Linked DNA regions of Homo sapiens. The protein of the gene in region 2 interacts with the protein of the main gene of each other region in a biochemical or structural test. Each region holds a gene or a part of one and is shown on either strand. Other genes may lie near its edges.

Region 1 (7,025 bases), on a different chromosome or scaffold from region 2:
TAAAATTAAGCACTCACTCAACAGCACATAAAGAGCAGGTTATTTTTTTTTTGAGATGGAGTCTCGCTCTGTCACCAGGCTGGAGTGCAGTGGCACCATCTCAGCTCACTGCAACTTCCACCTCCCCGGTTCCAGCGATTCTCCCACCTCAACCTCCCAGTTAGCTGAGACTACAGGAATGCGCCACCACACCCAGCTAATTTTTGTATTTTTAGTAGAGACAGGGTTTCAACATGTTGGCCAGGATGGTCTCAATCTCTTTTTTTTTTTTTTTTGAGACAGAGTCTTGCTCTGTTGCCCAGGCTGGAGTGCAATGGTGCGACCTCAGCTCACTGCAACCTCCGCCTCCCAGGTTCAAGCGATTCTCCTGCCTCAGCCTCCTGAGTAGCTGGGATTACAGAGACCTACCACCACGCCTGGCTAATTTTTGTATTTTTAGTAGAGACAGGGTTTCACCATGTTGGCCAGGTTGGTCTCGAACTCCTGACCTCAGGTGATCTGCCTGCCTTGGCCTCCCAAAGTGCTGGGATTACAAGTGTGAGCCACTGTGCCTGGCCTCGATTTCTTGACCTCTTGATCTGCCTGCCTCAGCCTCCCAAAGTGCTTGGATTACAGGCATAAGCCAACGCGCCTGGCCTAAAGAGCAGGTTTTAAAACACAGACTGTATGGCATTTCATGTGCTTCCTACCTTGACTGGGACCACTGCAGTTTGCACCATGTTCCTGAATCGACCAACTGAGGGATCCACATCCTCTGCAAAAAGAGAAGAGGGCAGGGTTGGGTTGGTACTTTACTGGGAGGAATAAGGGCACAGGAGTCACTGCAAACAAACCATCACAACAACTCATATTAAAATTGTAAAACACAGAGAGTGCTTCCTGGGTGCTGGGCATTGTGCTAAATCCTCACAAAGACCCTGTGATGTAGGTACTACCACAATCAACATTTAGTAGATGAGAAAGCAAACTGAGGCTTGGAGGAGCAAAGGGACTGGCCCAGTTGCTCTGGTGGAGAGTACAGGAGCCAGGACTTGAGTCCAAGTAGTTCAAAACAGGCCTGTGATCTGCACCACTGTGCTGTGCTGCCCTCCCCCAAGTTCTTTCCCATTCTGTATAACTCCCTCTTTTGAGGGGAAAGAAAAGAAGAGTAGACATTATCAGTTCCATATCAGTGACAAAACAATGACATGTCAAGAGGTCACATATCAAATGCCTTGCTAATGCCTGCTTATTAGCAAAAAAACGGATTTTGGTTTCAAAGCCAGGGCTTCAAACTGAACCTGGCCTTTTGACTTGAACGGCCTGAACTGTATATAAGCAAGACTTGCACTAAAGGCTCTGATGCCCCCGTCTACACGGGAAATGAAGAGCAAGATACTGTCCCACCCTTGAATTCACAGTCACAGAGCCAGATAGGCTACAACACAGAGGTGCTTCAAGAGAAGTGCACAACAGTGTTTCTGGAGCACAGAGGGGATGACTGGGCTGGATCACCAAGGATGGTGGAGTTTTCTCACTGAAGGTTGAATGTGAGTGGAAACATGCAGAGGCACCAACTTATGTACCACTACTAGAGAAAACTACTCCAAGCCCCAGTTAACTTAATATAGTGATAGAGAAGGAATCATTTCCCTAATAGATGTTGTCATCTTATTTTCAATGAGGTTGCTTGTTATTGAAAGAAACACTCCTGGCCGGGTGCGGTGGCTCACGCCTGTAATCCCAGCACTTTGGGAGGCCGAGGTGGGCAGATCATGAGGTCAGGAGGTCGAAACCATCCTGGCTAACATGGTGAAACTCCGTCTCTACTAAAAAATACAAAAAATTAGCTGGGTGTGGTGGCGTGCACCTGTAGTCCCAGCTACTCGGGACGCTGAGGCAGGAGAATGGCGTGAACCCGGGAGGTGGAGCTTGCAGTGAGCCGAGATCACGCCACTGCACTCCAGCCTGGGCGACAGAAGGAGACTCCGTCTCAAAAAAAAAAAAAAAAAAAAAAAAGAAAGAAAGAAAGAAAGAAAAACTCCCAGAAATCCCTTTGGAAAACAAAGAATCACTATTTAATTTGAGTAATTATAATTAGCCCCTGGTTTATTTGCTTTAAGTCTGGATTTTTTCACATATTAGGATCCATGCCTTTAAAGAGGACACTCTGGTATTATATTCACCATCAATCTATGCTCAATGAACAAATGGCTTCTATATAGACGAGAAAGGACAAAAATATCCAAGCTGATTAAGAAAGAGACAATGTCTCTAAAAAGGTATCCCAAACTTCTCTCATGGCCCCTCCGGTTTCAGAGCCTGTGCTCTTAACCACTATGCTATACTGCCTGAACACATTTCCCTAAGAAAGCTCGAGGGCACTAATTTTCTTTCTTTCTTTTTTTTTTTTGAAACGGAGTCTTGCTCTGTCGCCCAGGCTGGAGTGCAGTGGCACCATCTCGGCTCACTGCAAGCTCCGCCTCCTGGGTTCACGCCATTCTCCTGCCTCAACCTCCCAAGTAGCTGGGACTACAGGCGCCCGCCACCACACCCAGCTAATTTTTTATATTTTTAGTAGAGATGGGGTTTCACCGTGTTAGCCAGCATGGTCTTGATCTCCTGATCTCGTGATCCGCCCACCTCGGCCTCCCAAAGTGCTGGGATTATAGGGGTGAGCCACCGTGCCCGGCCGAGGGCACTAATTTTCAGTGAGAAAAACAGAGCAGATCAGATCCTCACTCCTGAAAGAGACTTAAGAAATTTGTCAGGCCGGGCATGGTGGCTCACGCCTGTAATCCCAGCACTTTAGGAGGCCGAGGCGGGCGGATCACGAGGTCAGGAGATCGAGACCATCCTGCCTAACACGGTGAAACCCCGTCTCTACTAAAAAAAAAAAAAAAAAAAAAAAAAAAAAATTAGTCGGGCATGGTGGCGGGCGCCTGTAGTCCCAGCTACTCGGGAGGCTGAGGCAGGAAAATGGCGTGAACCCAGGAGGCGGAGGTTGCAGTGAACTGAGATCGTGCCACTGCACTCCAGCACTCCAGCCTGGGTGACAGAGCGAGACTCTGTCTCAAAAAAAAAAAAAAAAAAAAAAAAGAAATTTGTCTAGTCCAGTGGTTCCCAAATTGCTGGCTGTTGTACAAACAGGAGCTCATTAAAAAATATAAATTTTGGGCTGGGCGCGGTAGCTCACGCCTGTAATCCTAGCACTTTGGGAGGTTGAGGGCAGATCACCTGAGGTCAGGAGTTCAAAACCAGCCTGGCCAACATGGTGAAACCCCGTCTCTACTAAAAATACAAAAAAATTAGCCAGGTGTGGTGGCAGAAGCCTATAATTCCAGCTACTTGGGAGGCTGAGGCAGGAGAATCACTTGAACCCAGGAGGCAGAGGTTGCATGAGCCGAGATTGCGTCACTGCACTCCAGCCTGGGTGACAGAACGAGACTCCGTCTCAAAAAATAAATAAATAAAAATAAAAAATAAAAAATAAAAATTTCAGCCAGGCATGGGGACTCATGCCTGTAATCCCAGTGCTTTGGGAGACTGAGGCAGGAGGATCGCTTAAGCCCAGGAGGTCAAGACCAGCCTGGGCAACATGATGAAACCCCATTTCTACAAAACATATGACAATTAGCTGAGCGTGGTGACGTGCACCTGTTGTCCCAGATACTCAGGAGGTTGAGGTGGGAGGATCACCTGAGCCTGGGTGGTCAAGGCTGTAGTGAGCCGTGACTGTGCCACTGCACTCTAGCCTGGGCGACAGAATGAGATCGTGTCTCACACACACACAAAAAAGAAAAATTAAAAAACATATAAATTTCTAGGTCCAACCCTGGAAACTCTTTTTTGGAGACAGTCTCACTCTGTCACCCAGGTGGGAGTGCAGTGGCACAACCTCGGCTCACTGCAACCTCTGCCTCCCAGGTTTAAGCGATTCTCCTGCCTCAGCTTCCTGAGTAGCTGGGACTGCAGGTGTGTGCCACCATGCCTGGCTGATTTTTTTATTTTTTGTAGAGACAGGGTTCTGCCATGTTGGCCACCCTGGTCTTGAAATCCTGGCCTCAAGCAATCCACCAACTTCAACCTTCCAAAGTGCTGGGATTATAGGCATGAGCCACTATGCCTGACCAACCACAGCTTTTTCTTTCTTTTTTTTTTGTCACCTAGGCAGGAGTGCAATGGCACAATCCCGGCTCACTGCAGCTTCTGCCTCCTGGGTTCAAGCAATTCTCCTGCCTTAACCTCCCAAGTAGCTGGGACTACAGGCGAACACCACCATGCCCAGCTAATTTTTGTATTTTTTTTAATAGAGATGGGGTTTCACCTTGTTGGCCAGGCTAGTCTTGAACTCTTGACCTTAAGTGATCCACCCTCCTCGGCCTCCCAAAGTGCTAGGACTACAGGCGTGAGCCACCGCGCCCGGGCCAACCACAGCTTTTTCATCAGAATAAACTAGCAAGATACCTCACCTGGGTTGATGATCTCATCATCCTCACTGAATGTCACCCGTGAGTTCTTCCTCTTCCTCTTTGGTCTTTGAATGTCCAGATTTCCCTCCTCAATGGTAAGGGTAGAAATCCGCTTGTTGTGGGCAGTGTTGAACTCTGTCAGGTTCTAAGCCAGGGTTCATACAGGAAAGACAGCAGTCAGTACAAAGGGAATCTGATGGAGAAAATCATACTAAATAAAGGTGAGGAAGGCATGAGGGGCTAATCTTGACCTCCAAAGGGAGTTGAGACACTTCTGCATTTAGAGAAGATTCATACTGTCCCGAGACTACGAATACTAACAAGTCTCAAGTCTCATTAGAAAGAATGTGGAACATCCTCATTGACTAGTGGGGCAGTGATATTCAAGAGGTAAAGGGCCTTGAGCTGAGAACAGGTCATCTGTGCAAATATCCTTGAGTTGTGTTTTTTGTTGTTGCTGAAGAAAGGCTATCATGTCTTCATGCCCACAATAAGCTGAGAATTAAAAGGAAATGTGGCTGGAAGGAACGCCAAGAATTGTTTTTAAGTAACAAAATTGAGATGAAAAAGGACAACTGGCTGCTTCCTTCCTAGTAGCTTTCTCCTTCAAAATTAAGGACACTGCTAGTGCACTTAATTTTTGGCGTTAATATTTTGTCATGCCCCATCCTGTGTCTGGCCCCAATTCTATTCATAACTATCTCAATAATTAACTTGGCCTTAGCTCTGTTGCTTGCCTCTTCCCAATCCACTGAAATTATTCCTTTCTGGTACAAACCACAAGTTTGAGATATTCTAAATGTCTTAAGAATGAAGATCCAGGGAGTACCTAACATACTGAACTAAAAGCCATGGAAGTATAGCAGCAGCCTGGATAAGGTGGCCTAAAGGGGAAATGGGCAACAGCAAGGTCCCTGGCTATGAAGCCACTTCTTCAAAACAAAACGACTTCTTAATTGTAAAATTTCTCTTTTTTTTTTTTTTTTTTGAGACGGAGTTTCGCTCTTGTTGCCCAGGCTGGAGTGCAACTGCGCGATCTTGGCTCACCACAACCTCCACCTCCCAGGTGCAAGTGACTCTCCTGCCTCAGCCTCCTGAGTAGCTGGGATTACAGGCATGCACCACCACACCCAGCTAATTTTTTGTATTTTTAGTAGAGATGGGGTTTCTCCATGTTGGCCAGGCTGGTCTCGAACTCCTGACCTCAGGTGATCCGCCCACCTCGGCCTCCCGAAGTGCTGGGGTTACAAACATGAGCCACTGTGCCCGGCCTAAGTTGTACAATTTCTATCGTGCTTTTCTTCCTAAGAGCCAGGAAACTGCCTTGGTGTACAGGAATAGTAAATGCAGGTGGGTGGTTAAGGACATGATTGCATTTGGTCTATTTGAACAGACCAATCACACCAGTGCAGTGACAGCTATGTAAAGGACTATAGCCACACCAAACTACTGGGGTCAGTTTCAAAAAAGGAAAACTTCTAGCACCTTAAAATTAAATCTTATAAAATTCATGGCCCTCAGGACAGCGAGGCCCATGGAAGAACAAAAGCAGTCTGGCTCTATTCAGAAGATTCCTGGACTGTTCAGATAGCACCAAAAAAAGCTACATGAATGAATGAAAATGTCAGTCTCTCTAAGCCAGTGCTGTCTGACAGAACTTTCTGTGAGGATGAAAACATTCTCTCTTTGCACTAGCCAACATAGCAGCCACTAGCCATATGTGACTACATAATACTTGAAATATTGTTAGTGGCTACCATATTGGACAGCATTAGCTCTAAGCAGTCAAGGGACAGAGAAATGTAGCTTCCAGTCTTAGCTTCTAACAGCCAGTGAAGGTGCACAAAACAGCTCAAGGAGACTAGTGGCTGGGACTCAGCCTCCTTGTTAGGCCTGGTGATACACAACCAAATCCATACAATGTGGCTCTCCGAGAGCTGTCACAGCTGGCCACACCAGATTGCCAAAGGCCCATTACTGGACTCAAGAGAACCCCCTGCTGCTAAGTCACTGGCATTTCCAGCTACATAGAACAGCTGTATACTCCAAAAACCAGGGTCCCCAAAGACAAAACAATGACATAAACAGGGAATTACATCAAGCTCAGTTTCCTCCTCTGGAAGCCCCAGTAAGCCCTTGAGTTCATCATCCTCTCCACCCATCTTCTCATCTCCTTTCACAGCCGATGGCAATGTCTGAGGCTTCTCGCGCAGAGTGTATGCCCTTGTGGATGCGCCAAATGAGACCGTGGAATCGATGGGAATTTGCTGAGGCTTGTGAGGTTCCAACCGAATGTGACCCAAGAAAGTGCCGTGTGCTGGGAATAACCAAATCAGAAACGTAAGGGGGAAAACAAAAACAACCTGAGTTTTAGAAGGAAGAGTATGATCGCCAACTCTCTTATCAGGTCAGCTTCCCCCCAGCACATCAGTTTTGCTTTTTTGTCTGTTTTTAATTTATTTTAAAAATGCCATAGTCAGGATCATGGTCAGAAACTCCAGCTTTTTAAAAAATGAAAATGGCACTGGGTCCACCACATCCATCATGTGTTACAGTGAGAAGGAAACTCCCTCA
Region 2 (7,025 bases):
TAGTTTTACTCTTGAGGGAGCCAAATAATGGCAAAAGGCCAAAGCAGATGGGGTGTGGGGGAATATGTTTTTGTGTTAGAGTTCAGGTAACCTGAGCAGTTACTACTGTTAATGTGAGTCAGAGAATTACAGGCACATATTTTACATTTATTGTGTTACCTGCCATTTTATTGAACTTTTTGAGATCATATGACTGCAGAGTAGTTGGCTTCTGCGAGAGTACTAATGGATGCCTTGGTAGTAAGATCAGAGGGCTGAATCTGGAGACTTGTCTTTTTGCTTAAGCAAAAGCAAAGATGCAGGGAATCCCTGTGGCAAGATGCAGGTGCAAATTACTGCCCTGTGTCTCTTTCCTCGTTGGGCAAGTGAAGATGGTAGTACCATGTCTGTTGCACAGTATCATTCTTTACTTTGAGAATGGAATAGGATGGAGGTCACCCTGTACATATATTAGACACTCAGCAAAGACTTGATTTTAGTTTAAAGATAAAATGGAAGCATGGTGGCTGTATTACATTTTCATTTGATTCCATCTTGATTTGCCTTGGGAGGAGATGGGTAAATTAAGTGATCAGAAGTAAAATAAGCAACGTGCCCTATTAACGAATGTTTTGTGTGGCCTCTGTATTGGCAGCTCAGTGTTTAGCCAGAATGTAAAGAAACTGATATATAAAAACGTCTTAGAGTTTTTAAAATTTCAGTTCTCTAGTGTTAAAAGGTAATTTTACAGAAAAAATGGCAAGTGAACACATGTTGAAACTTTTACTCAGAGGGAACCAGGCAAATGTTATACAGTAATGGTTAACCCGCAAAATCAAAACAGTACAAATTTATTAATATATGGAGTAAAGGAATGGAGAGATGAATTCCAAATGGAGACAGAAACTTTTTTTTCCCTTGAGTGGAAGGGAAGACATTTTGAACCTCTACTGTAGAGACAAAATTTACATGTCTATCAGTTATTCATAATGAAAAAAGAGTTGTGGCTGGGCGCAGTGGCTCACACCTGTAATCCCAGCACTTTAGGTGGCTGAGGTGGGAGGATCCTTTGAGTCCAGGAGTTTGAGACCAGCCTGGGCGACATCGTGAAACTCTGTCTCTACCAAAAATTAGCTGGGTGTGGTGGCCAGCTCCTGTTGTCCCAGCTACTCAGGAGGCTAAGGTGGGGGGAAGATCACTTGAGTCTGGGAGGTGGAGGTTGCGTTGAACCAAGGACAGAGTGGGTGACAGAGGGAGAGCCTGTCTCAAAAAAGAGTTGTAAGATAGCTCAAAGACATAGTGGAGGGCTATAGTCTGGTAACTTGGAAGGATGTGCTATATAGATAATGCATAGTTTTCCACTGAGATACAGAATTGTTTTCTACGTTTGATGTTAATTATGTGAATACAACTGAAAAGGTGGAGAGAAAAAGAGATTAAAATACCACATTTTCTATTTCTGTAAAGACTAATGATATTCACATTAAATTACAATTCAAATATTTGTTGAGTACGTACTGCTTGCTACCCGCCTATTATTTCATTTATGATATTTTTTAACCTTCTATATAAAACCAACTTTAGGAAGCAATAATTTAAAAATAGCCCCTAAAGCAGTGTTTCCTAGGCTGTTTAATAGGCATTTCATGGAAAAAAAAAAAAAAAAAGGCTTCCTCTGGAATGTATTTTAGAACTGCTGCCCTAAGATCCTAGATTAAATAAATCTTTTCTTTCCAAAGGAGACATTGGAATCTGTAATCAGGAGGTAGTGGAATCCTCTTCTGAGATTAGAGAGCTGAGATTAGAGGGCCACTCGTGTGTGAGATAAGGTATGAATTAGGAGAATTTTCAAGGTTTCCTGCAGTCATTTCTTTTTTTTGGAAGGATTTACTTTAATTGTGATTGAGAGTCTCTGGAGTTCTGATTTATGAGTATTATTACTTTAGAACAATGAGACAGTTTTAACTTGTAAATAGCATAGAATATATGTAGCACTTTAAAAAAATTCTAAATGTTTTGCGTTATAAGCAGAATTTGAATAACAGGATTTTAAAAAGTGACATCTAATGTAGAAGCCATTAACACTCCTGCTTCAAACGGCTCCCCAGCTCCATGCTCCAGACTGAGCAGCAGTCAAATACATTATGAAGACATATACATCAGTCAGATTTAAGAGTCACAGCTTTGGGATGGAATTACCAGCCAAGAGACCAGTTAGGCTTTTTCAGCACTTCCAGTACCTTTTGTAAAGAGCTGTAAAGATTCACTGATACAGTGTATTAAAGTGACTGGAACAGACCAGTGCCTTATTAAAGACAGTATTACTCTTCCATTATTCTCATTAGTATTTATTTCATTTTCATTTTTGTTGAAATATAAAATATCTACAAACCTTCTAACCTGTAGCTGGATTATGTTTATCCTTATGTGGAGGCAAGAATACATTTTTTTCTTCTTGTAGAAATTATTTCTCTTAGGTCAGTCAGCATCTTCCCAGTAGAGTTATTTACTGCTAAAAACAGTATTGCTGTTTCATGTAATTTTTCCTCATTTACTGCTTACAGGATGACGCTGTCAGTATAGAAAGTGGTACAAACACTGAACGCCCTGATACACCTACAAACACGCCAAATGCACCTGGAAGGAAAAGTTGGGGAAAGGGAAAATGGAAGTCAAAGAAATGCAAATATTCTTTCAAATGTGTAAATAGTCTCAAGGTATGTGCAAAAAAAGATCCTTTGGGCTGAATGCTAGGCTTCAGAAATTATTTCTCTGTGGCACGCATTTCGTACTCAGGATACTCTGTCAAGTTGTAAATATTTTAAAGTTACAATGTTTTCTGAAGGGTTTTTTTTTTTGTAGTTCAGACTGCGTATCTATTTTAGTCCATCCCATGTTTAGTTTTTTGGTTTTGTTTTTTGTTGTTTTAATTTAAATATGTGACAGTGTTGCAGGATGTTTTTGCTTTATTGTTTGCATTCAAATTATAAGATTTGGGTAACTATTACTCTTTATATTTTAGTAAAACTTAAAAAACATAAGCCACTTCTGGCATCAGTTTTTAAAAAGAACTGAATGTAACCCATTAACTTTGACTAAGTATAAATTGAAACAGATGTTTTACTTTGTACAGTTTCTGTCCTTTGTTTTATTTATAACTGTTTTCAAAGAAAAAGGTGTAAAAAATTTTTAAACTTTTTAATATTAAATATTTAGGGAAAAGGGGGTTTTGGTTATTTAAATTAATCTGTCCCCAATAGTATTTTTATTTACTTTATAAAAGGGGTTACTGGTGTTTAAGATATTTTCTTTTATATATGTCCAGTTTGTTTTTTAAATGTGAGGCTATTTTTTTCTATACTGAGGAAAAATGTGTATTATCTCATACATATGTAAGTTAAAACCTTTTCTAAATATCCAAATATATTTTTTATAAGTAAAGTTTTGGGAAAGCATAAGAAGCTATGACTATGACATTTTTCTGTCTGTGTAGCAAAAATTCGATGCTCAGTGTGTCAGATTTTGCTCCTGTAAAAGGAGAGAAATTAATCTCAGCATATTTTTTAAAAGTCAATTATAGTTTCATGTGCATATTTATTTACATTAACGTACTACTTTTAGGTACTGTACCTGGAAGATGTTTTTAGCTGCCTTTTATACTTAAGGCAGTATTTCAAAATCCTAAAGCTGTGGCTTTTCAAATGATGAGAAAACGAAAGACGTACTTTAAAAGTGAAAACAGTGCCTTAAACTGCATCTGAAAGTCAGTGTTAAATGCCAGAAGTTGGCCAGTAAAATCCTAAAGCTGAAAAATAACTTTGTGAACAAAAGTGCATAATTGTTCTTTGTACATCTCCTATAGCCTCCTGGTAACTGTGCAGTTACAGTTTATTTCTTCCCCTAGTCCCCAGTGTTCAGATATTCTCATTCTGACTAACAGAAAACAGTGATTTGAATGGAGTCTGCTATGCTTCACTTTACAAGGGAAAAATTTAGCCTTATAAAATTTAGTGAATGCCAGAGAAGCTATTAAGGCCATCTGTTAATTTCCTGTTTCAGAAAAATAAATTGTGTCCTTTTGTATCCACCAAAATTATCCAGTTTATTGTGATTCAGAATATGATTGGCTTATTAAGAAAAAGGCAAATATTATAAGTGTTTTCGTAGGTAAGCGGTTATTACCTAACTTGTGATTTCAGCCTTTGGTTGTGATAAAACTTTATCATACACAATATTTTAAAATGTGAAAACTAGACTAGTAGACATCTTTTAATTTTAGTGTCAAAAGTTAGCTTATGTATGATACACAAAATAATGTATTGCATTTTGGAAAAAAGAAGGGGATAGGTTAGTTTACTGTCATTTTCTGGTTTGTAAGATACATTAATCTTTTCTTATTTCATGATTATTTTATAGGAAGATCATAACCAACCATTGTTTGGAGTTCAGTTTAACTGGCACAGTAAAGAAGGAGATCCATTAGTGTTTGCAACTGTAGGAAGCAACAGAGTGAGTGTTAAGGGGTCTATTTAGTATTTGGCTTGATTTCCAGATCTGGTGTTAATGTAATATTGAAATAGAATAATTTCAAAGTGCATTTTGTGAAGCTGGTTTAGCAATATGATTCTTTCATGTAAGAGTGAAGGTTTCTAGAAATTAATTAAAACTAGTATGCATGGCTGAAAATACATCTATATTTAATATATTACCCCTAATTATTTATGAAACAGGTTTTATACTTGTATTTGTCTTCATAAATACTTGGTTGAAAGAATTGGCGTCCTTTTTTTTTTTTTTTAATTGGCGTTCTTTTTAAAGTGATTTTGGTATTTATCATTCAAATAGCGTAAGAACTGGCTGTGATTTTTTTAAAATTAAGGTAATGAATGGCTCTATAAATGAAGCATAAATCCAGTGGATTTAAATAAGTTATTGAGATGTTTTAATTACTTGCAGTAAACATTTGAGTTTGCTGGGTTTTTTTGTTTTGAGACAGGTAGTGTTTGGTGGTGATTGTTGTTGTTGTTGTTGTTGTTTGTTTTTGAGAGAGAGAGAGTCTTACTCCTTCCTCCAGGATGGAGTGCAGTGGTTAATCAAGGCTTACTGCAGCCTCAACTTCTGGGGCTCAGGTGATCCTCCCATGTCAGCCTTCTGAGTAGCTACAGGCATGCACTACCATCCCTGGCTAATTTTTTTTGTAGGGATAGGTTTTCACCGTGTTGCCCATGCTGGTCTTGAACTCTTGGGCTCAAGCAATCTACCTGCCTTGGCCTCCCAAAGAGCTGGGGTTGCAGTCATGAGCCACCATGTCCAGCCTTTTAAGGAAATTTTATAATGACATGTAAGGCTCTAGGCCTTTTACTATTTGACAAGGTCAATTCATTGAAACTCTAAATATTTTTAAGTTACCACTGAAGTTGATAACATGAAATAATAGCTTTTTTTCTTCTGTTTTTGGTGTTTAGTCAAATGTAGGTTTTAAGATAATGTAGTCTGCTTATAGTTGTTTAGTTCCTAGATTCTTTGAAAACAACAATTCAGAGGAAAAATTTTGCGGTTTTAAGAAAAGGTTGAGGTTATTTTTTTCCTAGTTGGGAATGTAGTGCATTAATTAAATTTGAGTCCACTTTTAAGACACCACTGTAAACCTAAGTTAATATTTAGCTTTGATAGTATTATAATTGGTATAGTTTGTGCTCCAGTGTGCTGATTGCAGTGTTTTAGGTTTTCTAACAAAAAGAATCCCTATTTTTATTTAAAGTGACATAAAGGGGTGTCATATAGTTTATTGAATTATAAAAAGTTCTGCTGTTAGAATTTCTTTAAAAGGAAGAAAGAAAACAAAAACAATTACCACATAAGACATAACCTAGTTAGCAGCCATATAAAGAATTTTTTTTGAACATTAACATAGAGGAGATAATGAATTAATAGGTTGTGATGATACACAGGATCTTCAGAGGTCTTCAGTACTATTATAAAATAATAATAGGTTTTTGCTAATGTGACTGACTATAAGCTATAAGAAAAATGGGGCCGGGCACAGTGGCTCACGCCTGTAATCCCAGCATTTTGGGAGGCTGAGGCAGGTGGATCACCTGAACTCAGGAGTTCGAGACCAGCCTGACCAACGTGGTGAAACCCTGTCTCTACTAAAAACACAAAAATTAGCTGGGCATGATAGCGAGTGCCTGTAATCTCAGCTACACGGGAGGCTGAGGCAGGAGGATCACTGGAATCCGGGAGGCAGAGGTTGCAGTGAGCCAAGATCATGCCATTGCACTCCAGTCTGGACGACAAGAGTGAAACTCTGTCTCAAAAAAAAAAAAAAAAAAAAAAAAAAAGAAAATGGAAAGAAATTTATAAAAGTTTAGTATTACAAAATTGTGTATGGTGTATGTATAGTTTTAATTTTAGAGTATGCAACAAATGAAAAAGGCTATCATACATGTGAAAGTTAATGTTTGATTATCTGTACCCATGAGAAAATAATTCATTAAGCAAATTGTAGACTTTTAAATATGTAACTAATATGTAAATACTCCAAAACTATCCAAAGACTTATTTTTATTTGAATTTTTATTTTTTATGGTTTTTTTTTTTTTTTGAGACTGAGTCTCTCTCTGTTGCCCAGGCTGGAGTGCAGTGGTGCAATCTTGGCTCACTGCAACTTCTGCCTCCTGGGTTCTAGCGATTCTCCTGTCTCAGCCTCCTGAGTAGCTGGGACTACAGGCACATGCCACCACACCCACCTAATTTTTGTATTTTTAGTAGAGACGGGGTTCCACCGTGTTAGCCAGGATGGTCTTGATCTCCTGACCTCGTGATCCACCCGCCTCGGCCTCCCAAAGTGCTGGGATTAAAGACATGAGCCACTGTGTCCGGACTTATTTTATTTTATTTTTTTTTGAGACAGAGTTTCGCTTTTGTTGCCAGGCTGGAGTGCAATGGTGCAATCTCGGCTCACTGCAACCTCCGCCTCCCGGGTTCAAGTGATTCACCAGCCTCAGCCTCCTGAGTAGCTGGGATTACGGGCATGTGCCACC
Region 3 (7,674 bases), on a different chromosome or scaffold from region 2:
CTACATCCTGGGCCATGAAACATGCCTCAACAAATTTAAAAGAATAGACATTATACAAAGTATGCTTTCAGACCACAATGAAATTGAATTAGGAATCAATAGAAGAATGGTAGCTGGAAAATCACATAATATTTGGGGATTAAACAATATACTTCTAAAGAAAACATGGGTTAGAGAAGAAGTGTCAAGATAAATTTTAAAATATTTTGAGATAAATTACCAAAATTTGTGGGATGCAGCAAAAGTGGTGCTTAGAGGGAAATTTGTAGCATTGAATGCATACATTAGAAAATAAGAAATACCTTAAATAAATCATCTAAGCTTCCATCTTAGGAAACTAGAAAATAAAACAGCAAATTCAGCCCAAAGTAAGCAGAAAAAAATGCAATAAAAATTAAAACAGGAATCAATGAAATTGAAAACAGAACAATAGTAGAGAAAAAGCAATACAATCAAAAGCTGGTTCTTTGAAAAGGTCAACAAGATTGAGAAGCTTGTAGCCAGACTGACCCAGAAAAAAAGAGAGTAAACAAAATTACTCATATCAGAAATTAGAGAGGAGCCATTGCTACTGACCTCATGGACATTAAAAGGATAATAAAAAGTATTATGAACAACTCTATGGCCACAAATTTGATTACTTAGATAAAATGAACAAATTCCATGGCTTGTTTTTAATGAATAGGATATGGCAAAAGTGATGAGATCTCACTTCTGAGATTAAGTTATAAAAAGACTGCATCTTTCCTCTTGGGATCTCTCTCTCTCTCTCTCTCTCTCTTTCTCTCTCTCCAGCTACCATGCTGTGAGGAGACTTAGGAAGCCTACGGATAGGTCCACACGACAAGGAATCAAAGTCTGACAACAGCCACATGAGTTAGCTTAGAAATGGGTCTTCTTTGGCCTGTCAACAACCATGTAAAAGAGCTTGGAAGTGGACCTCTTACCCTACTTGAGCCTTCAAATGAGACTGCAACCCTAGATGAGAGCTTGGGTGCAACCTCGTAAGAAAGTTTGAGTCAGAGGCACCTAACTAAGCCATGCCTGGATTCCAGACCCATAGAAACTGATATGATAAATGTTTGTTGTTTTTAGCTGCTATGTTTTAGGGAAATTTGTTACACAGCAATAGATACCTACTACATACTCTTTGACCAAGAAATTCTACTTCAATGTTTCCATACTAGAGCAATTTATTTCAATCCTTTTCACATCAGAACATATATTTAAAATGCTATCAGCTCACTGGAATAAACAGACAGTGTGCTCTTGGCCAGAGGCAACAGTCTCTAGGGGCAGCTGCTGAAGCCAAAGCTACCTTCCTGGAGAGCTAAGGGGATCAATATATCAGAACACTTATAACTCAGTTGGGAAGCTCTGCCCTGAAGAAACTCTTCTATGTAGGCACAAGGAGCCATGCACTAGGATGTTCATTGAATCCTCACTTATAATTGCACAAAACAGAAACAGTAGGAAAAGAGATAAATTGGATAACTTATGCAAAAGAAGTCCATACAATAATATGTTATAGTAATGTATTGGATAATTGATACAGTAATATTCAGCAGTTAAAATGCATGACTCAGATCTACAGGTATCAAAATTGCTGAGTTTCAAAAAACAACAGAGTGAAAATCTAAGTTGCAAAAGTATATATTTATAATGATACCATCTGTATAATTTAAATACATGAAACAAAATTGTGTATTGGTCACAGATATATATATGTAAATATATATTATATATCTGTATATATATGTATACATACACTTATATGCACATATACATATATACACATATATACATACATATATATACACACACATATATATATATATATATATATATATACACATACACACACACACAAACATGAACAAGACGACAGCACATCAACTTCCAAATAAGGCTTATTTTCAAGAGAGAGGTCAAGTGAATAGGATGAAGTGAGGGCTTCATCTGTACTATTTTGTTTCAAAAACAGAAGGATCTGAGGATCTGGAGAAAATAAAATTTGCTCAATCCATGTGACAGGTGCATTAAAATGTGTATTTTATACTCTACTTTTCTGTATAGTTGACATATTTAAAAATATTTTTATAAAGAAAATGTATCCTCTCTTGAGTCCAAAAATACATATACAAGCTGGGCACAGTGGCTCACGCTTGTAACTCCAGCACTTTGGGATACCGATGCAGGTGGATTGCTTGAGATCAGGAATTCGAGACCAGCCTGGTCAACATGGTGAAACCCCATTTCCACTAAAAAATACAAAAACTAGCTGGGTGTGGTGGTGCACACCTGCAGTCCCAGCAACTCAGGAGGCTGAGGCAGGAGATTGCTTGAACTCGGGAGGTGGAGGTTGCAGTGAGCCAAGATTTTACCACTGTACTCCAGCCTGGATGACAGAGCAAGACTCTGTCTCAAAAAAACAAAAATACATATACATTCGGTATATTGTACTGTCCCATTTCCTCATATCGTTATTTATTTTGCAGTCTATTTGATTTATCTATACCATAAGAAATGAGGTGAAGTTTCCCACTATAATTGCAGACTTCCTGATCTCTCTTTATATTTCTAACAGTATTTGCTTTATATATTTTGAAACTACATTGTTTGGCACATAAATTTTTGTGACTATCATATGTTTTTTTTTAAAATGCACTGTTCTGCAACATGCTTTTTTCACTTAATATATTTATATTAGACCAGTACATATATACATATATACTTGCCTTCTTTCTTTCTTTCTTTTTTTTTTTTTTTTTTTTGAGACAGGGTCTGACTATTGCCCAGGCTGGATCACAGTGGCGCAATCTTGGCTCACTGCAGCCTCAACCTCCTGGGCTCAAGTGATTCTCCCACCTCAGCCTCCCAAGTAGCTGGGACTACAGGCACGTACCATTGCGCCAGGGAAATTTTTACGTTTTTTTTGTAGAGATGGGGTTTCACCATATTGTCCAGGCTGGTCTCAACTCCTGGGCTCAAGCAATCCTCCTGCCTTGGTCTCCCAAAGTGCTGCGATTACAGGTGTCAACCACCATGTCTGTACATGAGCCACCATGCAACATGTTTAAATAAATTTAAACAATTTATTTGTTGAGGAGAATTAAAGTTGTTTGCATTATCTTGCTACACTCCTATTCACATATCTTTCTCCATTTGTGTGTCTCAATAGAACACACAATAGAGCAATTGACTAGAAGTAGAATTGCTAGATGAAAATGTATCTCCATTAAAAAATTTGATAGTTTCAGATTTCTCACCAATGAAGTTCTATTATTGTTATTATTATCATCATCATTTTGAGATGGCATCTTGCTTGGTTGTCCAGGCTGGAGTGCAGTGGCGTGATCTTCACTCACTTCAGCCTCAACCTCCTGGGCTCACACAATCCTCCTGCTTCAGCCTCCTAAGTAGTTGGGACTACAGGCACACACCACCAGCTTGTCATATCTTTCTCAGTGAATAAAGCAACCTGTTTTGTTCTCTTTAGTTCTTTTTACTTTGAGTTCTCGATGTTTAGGATATTGATATTGTTACGAGTTTGTTTCCTCCTTCCTTTCCTTCCTTTTTTTTTTTTTTGCTTCTTTCCTTCCCTCATTCCCTCTCTCCCTTTTTTCTGCTAGTATTTTACTCTCATATATTTTTTATTCCTATTTCTGCTTTAGGTGAAACTCACATAAATAGAATATAACTTAGCTTTTAAAAACAAAATGCTCAAAATAAGAGTTTGGTTTTTATTAGGAGATGTTAACCCATAATGCATGCTGATATATTTGGATTCCTGCATTTTTGTTTTCTTTTTGCATCCTTTTTTTTGTACCCCCCCAGCAACATTTCTTGACCTTTGTTAAGAATGAGTTTTTCTCTTTGTTCCACATATTATTACTTTAATGGTTTGAAAGTTATACATTTTATTTCTATTATGTTGTTACCCCTAAGATTTTTGTTCTATTATGCATTTTGTTTCCAGTAAGAACAAAACTTTGCTACTGTTGTGAACATGGGAAATGTTTACATTGGCTGTAAATACTAGAGTTCCATTATAAAGCGCAATTTAAAGACTTCAGAATTCAGTAAAATGGTATAAATCCAAAAGGCGTAACTACAATATTTTTAACTGCAATGCAATAACAGAATATGAACCTGTGTTGTGTCCTATGATCTCTTGGACAGAGAAGCTTGGTTTTGTGATTAGCAGCAACAAATTCAACATAAACAGCTTCAATTTGCTTTAACCATCAGGTTAAAAAAAATTTAAGCTTACTGCAACCCTAAATATGGTTTCACAGTTTTAATACTTTCGGTACAACCATAACACGTAACATAGGATGTGATGTAGTAACGTAATTACTCTCACATTGGACTTAATCAGAAAGAATTTGCAGATTTTATTTTATTTATTAAAAAACCAGAAGGCAATATAGCTAAATGTTTAACATTAGTTAAAGCTGGGTGTTTGTGACATTTTTCGCTGTCCTTTTCTGTATCCTTGACGATTTCATCATTTAAGATGAAATAATGCTTTCGGGCCCACCCTGATTTGTGGAGAGCAGCTGCCGCCCCCGCCACATCAAGGAGGCGGGCTCCAGCTGACTTCACAATCACTTCCGCCGCCGCAGTCGCCGCCCGCCCCGCTGCTGTCTGGCGGGGGAGGAGCTCGGGACCGGGAGCAGCGGCTCTGGCGGTCGTGGCGGTCGGAGATCCGAGAGCTCTGCTTCTCTGAAAAGCGTGTGGCTTTCTGGACTTGGTGAGTGAAAGGCTGATTGTTTCCTCGATTCATCCGGGCGCTGGCGGTGGCGCGAGTGGCCGGGCGCGGGGCGAGTGGCCGGGCACGGGGGCGAGGATTTTGGGGGGTTCCTGGGAACTGCTTTTCAGGTTCGCCCCTCGGGAAGGGGTGGGGCGGACGCGGGACCTGACTGCAGAGTGAGGCCCATGTCCTCCATCGGCCTGTTCTGGGGCCACATCTTCCGCTGCCGGAACCCCTTTGGTGTGGCGCGGTCCCCACTCGAGTGGCTTTCATCGCTATTGGGAGGGCAGTGGTGGTCGCGGCCCTCTCCCACTTCTCCCTGCCTCTCCTCCCCTCTCCTTCCTTCTTCCCTCCTCGGCCCCTTTGCGGAGCACTCCGTGGCCTTTCTTCCCATATTTTGCTGTTGTTTTGCCAAATGGTAAATGGTTAAGATTTTTAGGTAAAAATACTGTTCCCAGGGAAAAAATTGGAAGGAAAAAATAATTATTCTCAGGGAAAACTAGACCCACGCACGCCCTTTTCTTTCATTTTCCCTCTCCCCTGCCACATCGGTTGGGGTCTCCCGTTTGAGCTGATGGCCTTTTCCCACCTCTTTTTATGACATTGCGTCCCCCCTACCCCCCACCCCCCGTGTGTCGCGAGCACGCGCCCCCGCACAGAAGCCTTCCATTGCAGCCCCCTCCTTGCCCCTCCATCCTCAAGGTTCCAGTGCTTCCCCTCCCCCGCGCATGCGCAGGCACACGCAGCACACACCCTCTCACACACCCTCACACCCTCACACCCTCCCATGCCTTCCCCCTCCTCTATCCGCCTACCACATACACACCTCTAGCACCGGCCCCCTCCCTGCTCGGCCTCTGCGTGCTCTCGCGAACACATGCCTATTCACACACCCCCTCCGGCTGCCCTCCTTCTTCCTTCCTGTCATATACACACATAAGGACATCCTTCTATCGCTGGCCAGTGACATACATATGTAGCCACATGTGCTCATTCATACCCCCTTCTCAAATGCTCTCCTCTATTGCTCTGTCTGCCACGTGTGTCAGACACAGCTCTCTTTTGCTGGTCCCTGAGGTGCACACACTCGCACTCACATAAATCCTTCTACGGGGACACAACCTGCCTCCCTGCTTGCCATATCCACACAGGCAGGCATCATTCTTTGATTGCCTGCCTCTGTTCCATCCACCTCAAGCACATCCCTCTCCAGTGCTGCGCACCCCCCACCCCCGCTTCCATTTGTGCCTGCTGCATTTGCTCACACTGACATTTCTCCATTGTTGCCTCCCATTTTGACTAACATACACACACACAAACTCTCAGACACTCCTCTCCATTGCCAACCATACACTCCTCTGCCTGTGACATACGCATAAACATGGGCATCCTTCTGTAGTTTCAGCTGCCTCACATACAGCTACACACACAAACACCTTCCCTTTCCTCATACATACACGCACCCCTCTCCTCCAAAGCCACCCCACCCATGCCTGTCATTTTCATACCCACATCCAGAATGGGTCTCATTCTAACACTCATACCCTTTCCCCCTACAAACGTAAACATCCCTCTGTTGCAGGATTACTGGTCCCCTTCCACCTGTCCCTCTCCTCTTGATAGACAGACACATAGGCACTCGTGCACACACGGCGATCTGTATTTTCCACTCTATTCCAATTTGCATTTCTCCTGTATGTCTGCAGCACTCAGAAAAATGCAGACACCCCATAAAAAAAACTATAGCAGTCTTTCCTTTCCCCACGTTGCACAATTCCACAGTACTTCACCCACCTTCCAAGCGTCCAGTCACCCCCCAACCTTCCGTCAGATTCTCCTCTAAGTCTGGCTTTCCTGCAAACCCAGTCTTGTAATCATTTTGCCAACATTAAAAATGTGTTCCAGGTCTACACCTGACAGTCACTGGAATGCTACTCCAGGCCTTAGAAGAAAGTGAAACTAATTTTAAAGGCCCCTTATTCTTTCTGTTACCTGCCTGCTGAAGTGAAAATAAATCTCCCTGCTCCTTTATTCTAAACTGATTTTACTTTCCCATCTCAAAAACGTGTGCAGGGAGCAGGAGCCCTCCTACCCGAGCCCCAGCTGTATTGGAAACCCTCCTAAGTCAGAGTGATGGGTCAGGAATCTAGCAAGCCTGTATGGCCCAATCCAACAGGAGGGTATCAGTCCAATACAGGTAGGAGGTATGGAAGAAGGCATGCTTATGTCAGTTTCAGGCCACCCACGAGCCAGCGGGAAAGGATTGCCAGCCAGAGAAAGACGAACTCCGAAGTCCCAATGCACAGATCAGCCCCCAGTCAAACCACCAAGAGGAGCCGATCGCCATTTTCCACTACTCGTCGTAGTTGGGACGACAGCGAGAGTTCGGGAACCAACCTGAATATTGATAATGAGGACTATTCCAGGTATCCGCCAAGAGAGTACAGAGCTTCGGGTAGCAGAAGAGGAATGGCCTATGGACATATTGACTCTTATGGGGCAGATGATAGTGAGGAGGAGGGGGCTGGGCCTGTTGAGCGACCGCCAGTGAGAGGGAAAACTGGCAAGTTTAAAGATGATAAGCTGTATGACCCAGAGAAAGGGGCAAGGTCTTTGGCTGGGCCACCTCCACATTTCTCTAGTTTTAGCCGTGATGTGAGAGAGGAGCGAGACAAGTTAGACCCAGTCCCTGCAGCAAGATGCTCAGCTAGCAGAGCTGACTTCCTGCCACAAAGTAGTGTGGCCTCACAGTCGTCTTCTGAAGGCAAGCTGGCTACAAAAGGTGACAGCTCGGAGAGGGAGAGAAGGGAGCAAAATTTACCTGCACGTCCCAGCAGGGCTCCTGTGAGTATTTGTGGTGGTGGGGAAAACACCTCAAAGAGTGCAGAGGAACCTGTGGTCAGGCCCAAAATCAGAAA

The links. The genes of interacting proteins can lie anywhere in the genome.
Region 1: the proteins of EED (region 2) and PPP1R8 form a complex in vitro, tested with the Homo sapiens proteins (2 studies listed by BioGRID).
Region 3: of the proteins of EED (region 2) and PJA1, one has a biochemical effect on the other in vitro, tested with the Homo sapiens proteins (one study listed by BioGRID).

Annotation. Positions count from the first base shown.
Region 1 is NC_000001.11:27,840,757-27,847,781, reverse strand, and holds part of PPP1R8 (nuclear inhibitor of protein phosphatase 1), read right to left. Parts: intron 6,769-7,025; coding exon 6,548-6,768; intron 4,597-6,547; coding exon 4,452-4,596; intron 755-4,451; coding exon 690-754; intron 1-689. UniProt on the Homo sapiens protein: Inhibitor subunit of the major nuclear protein phosphatase-1 (PP-1). It has RNA-binding activity but does not cleave RNA and may target PP-1 to RNA-associated substrates. May also be involved in pre-mRNA splicing.
Region 2 is NC_000011.10:86,247,753-86,254,777, forward strand, and holds part of EED (polycomb protein EED), read left to right. Parts: intron 1-1,696; exon of another isoform or gene 1,697-1,808; intron 1,809-2,543; coding exon 2,544-2,696; intron 2,697-4,395; coding exon 4,396-4,488; intron 4,489-7,025. UniProt on the Homo sapiens protein: Polycomb group (PcG) protein. Component of the PRC2/EED-EZH2 complex, which methylates 'Lys-9' and 'Lys-27' of histone H3, leading to transcriptional repression of the affected target gene.
Region 3 is NC_000023.11:69,162,454-69,170,127, reverse strand, and holds the start of PJA1 (E3 ubiquitin-protein ligase Praja-1), read left to right. Parts: upstream 1-4,674; 5' UTR 4,675-4,756; intron 4,757-6,661; exon of another isoform or gene 6,662-6,889; coding exon of another isoform or gene 6,890-7,054; coding exon 7,055-7,674. UniProt on the Homo sapiens protein: Has E2-dependent E3 ubiquitin-protein ligase activity. Ubiquitinates MAGED1 antigen leading to its subsequent degradation by proteasome. May be involved in protein sorting.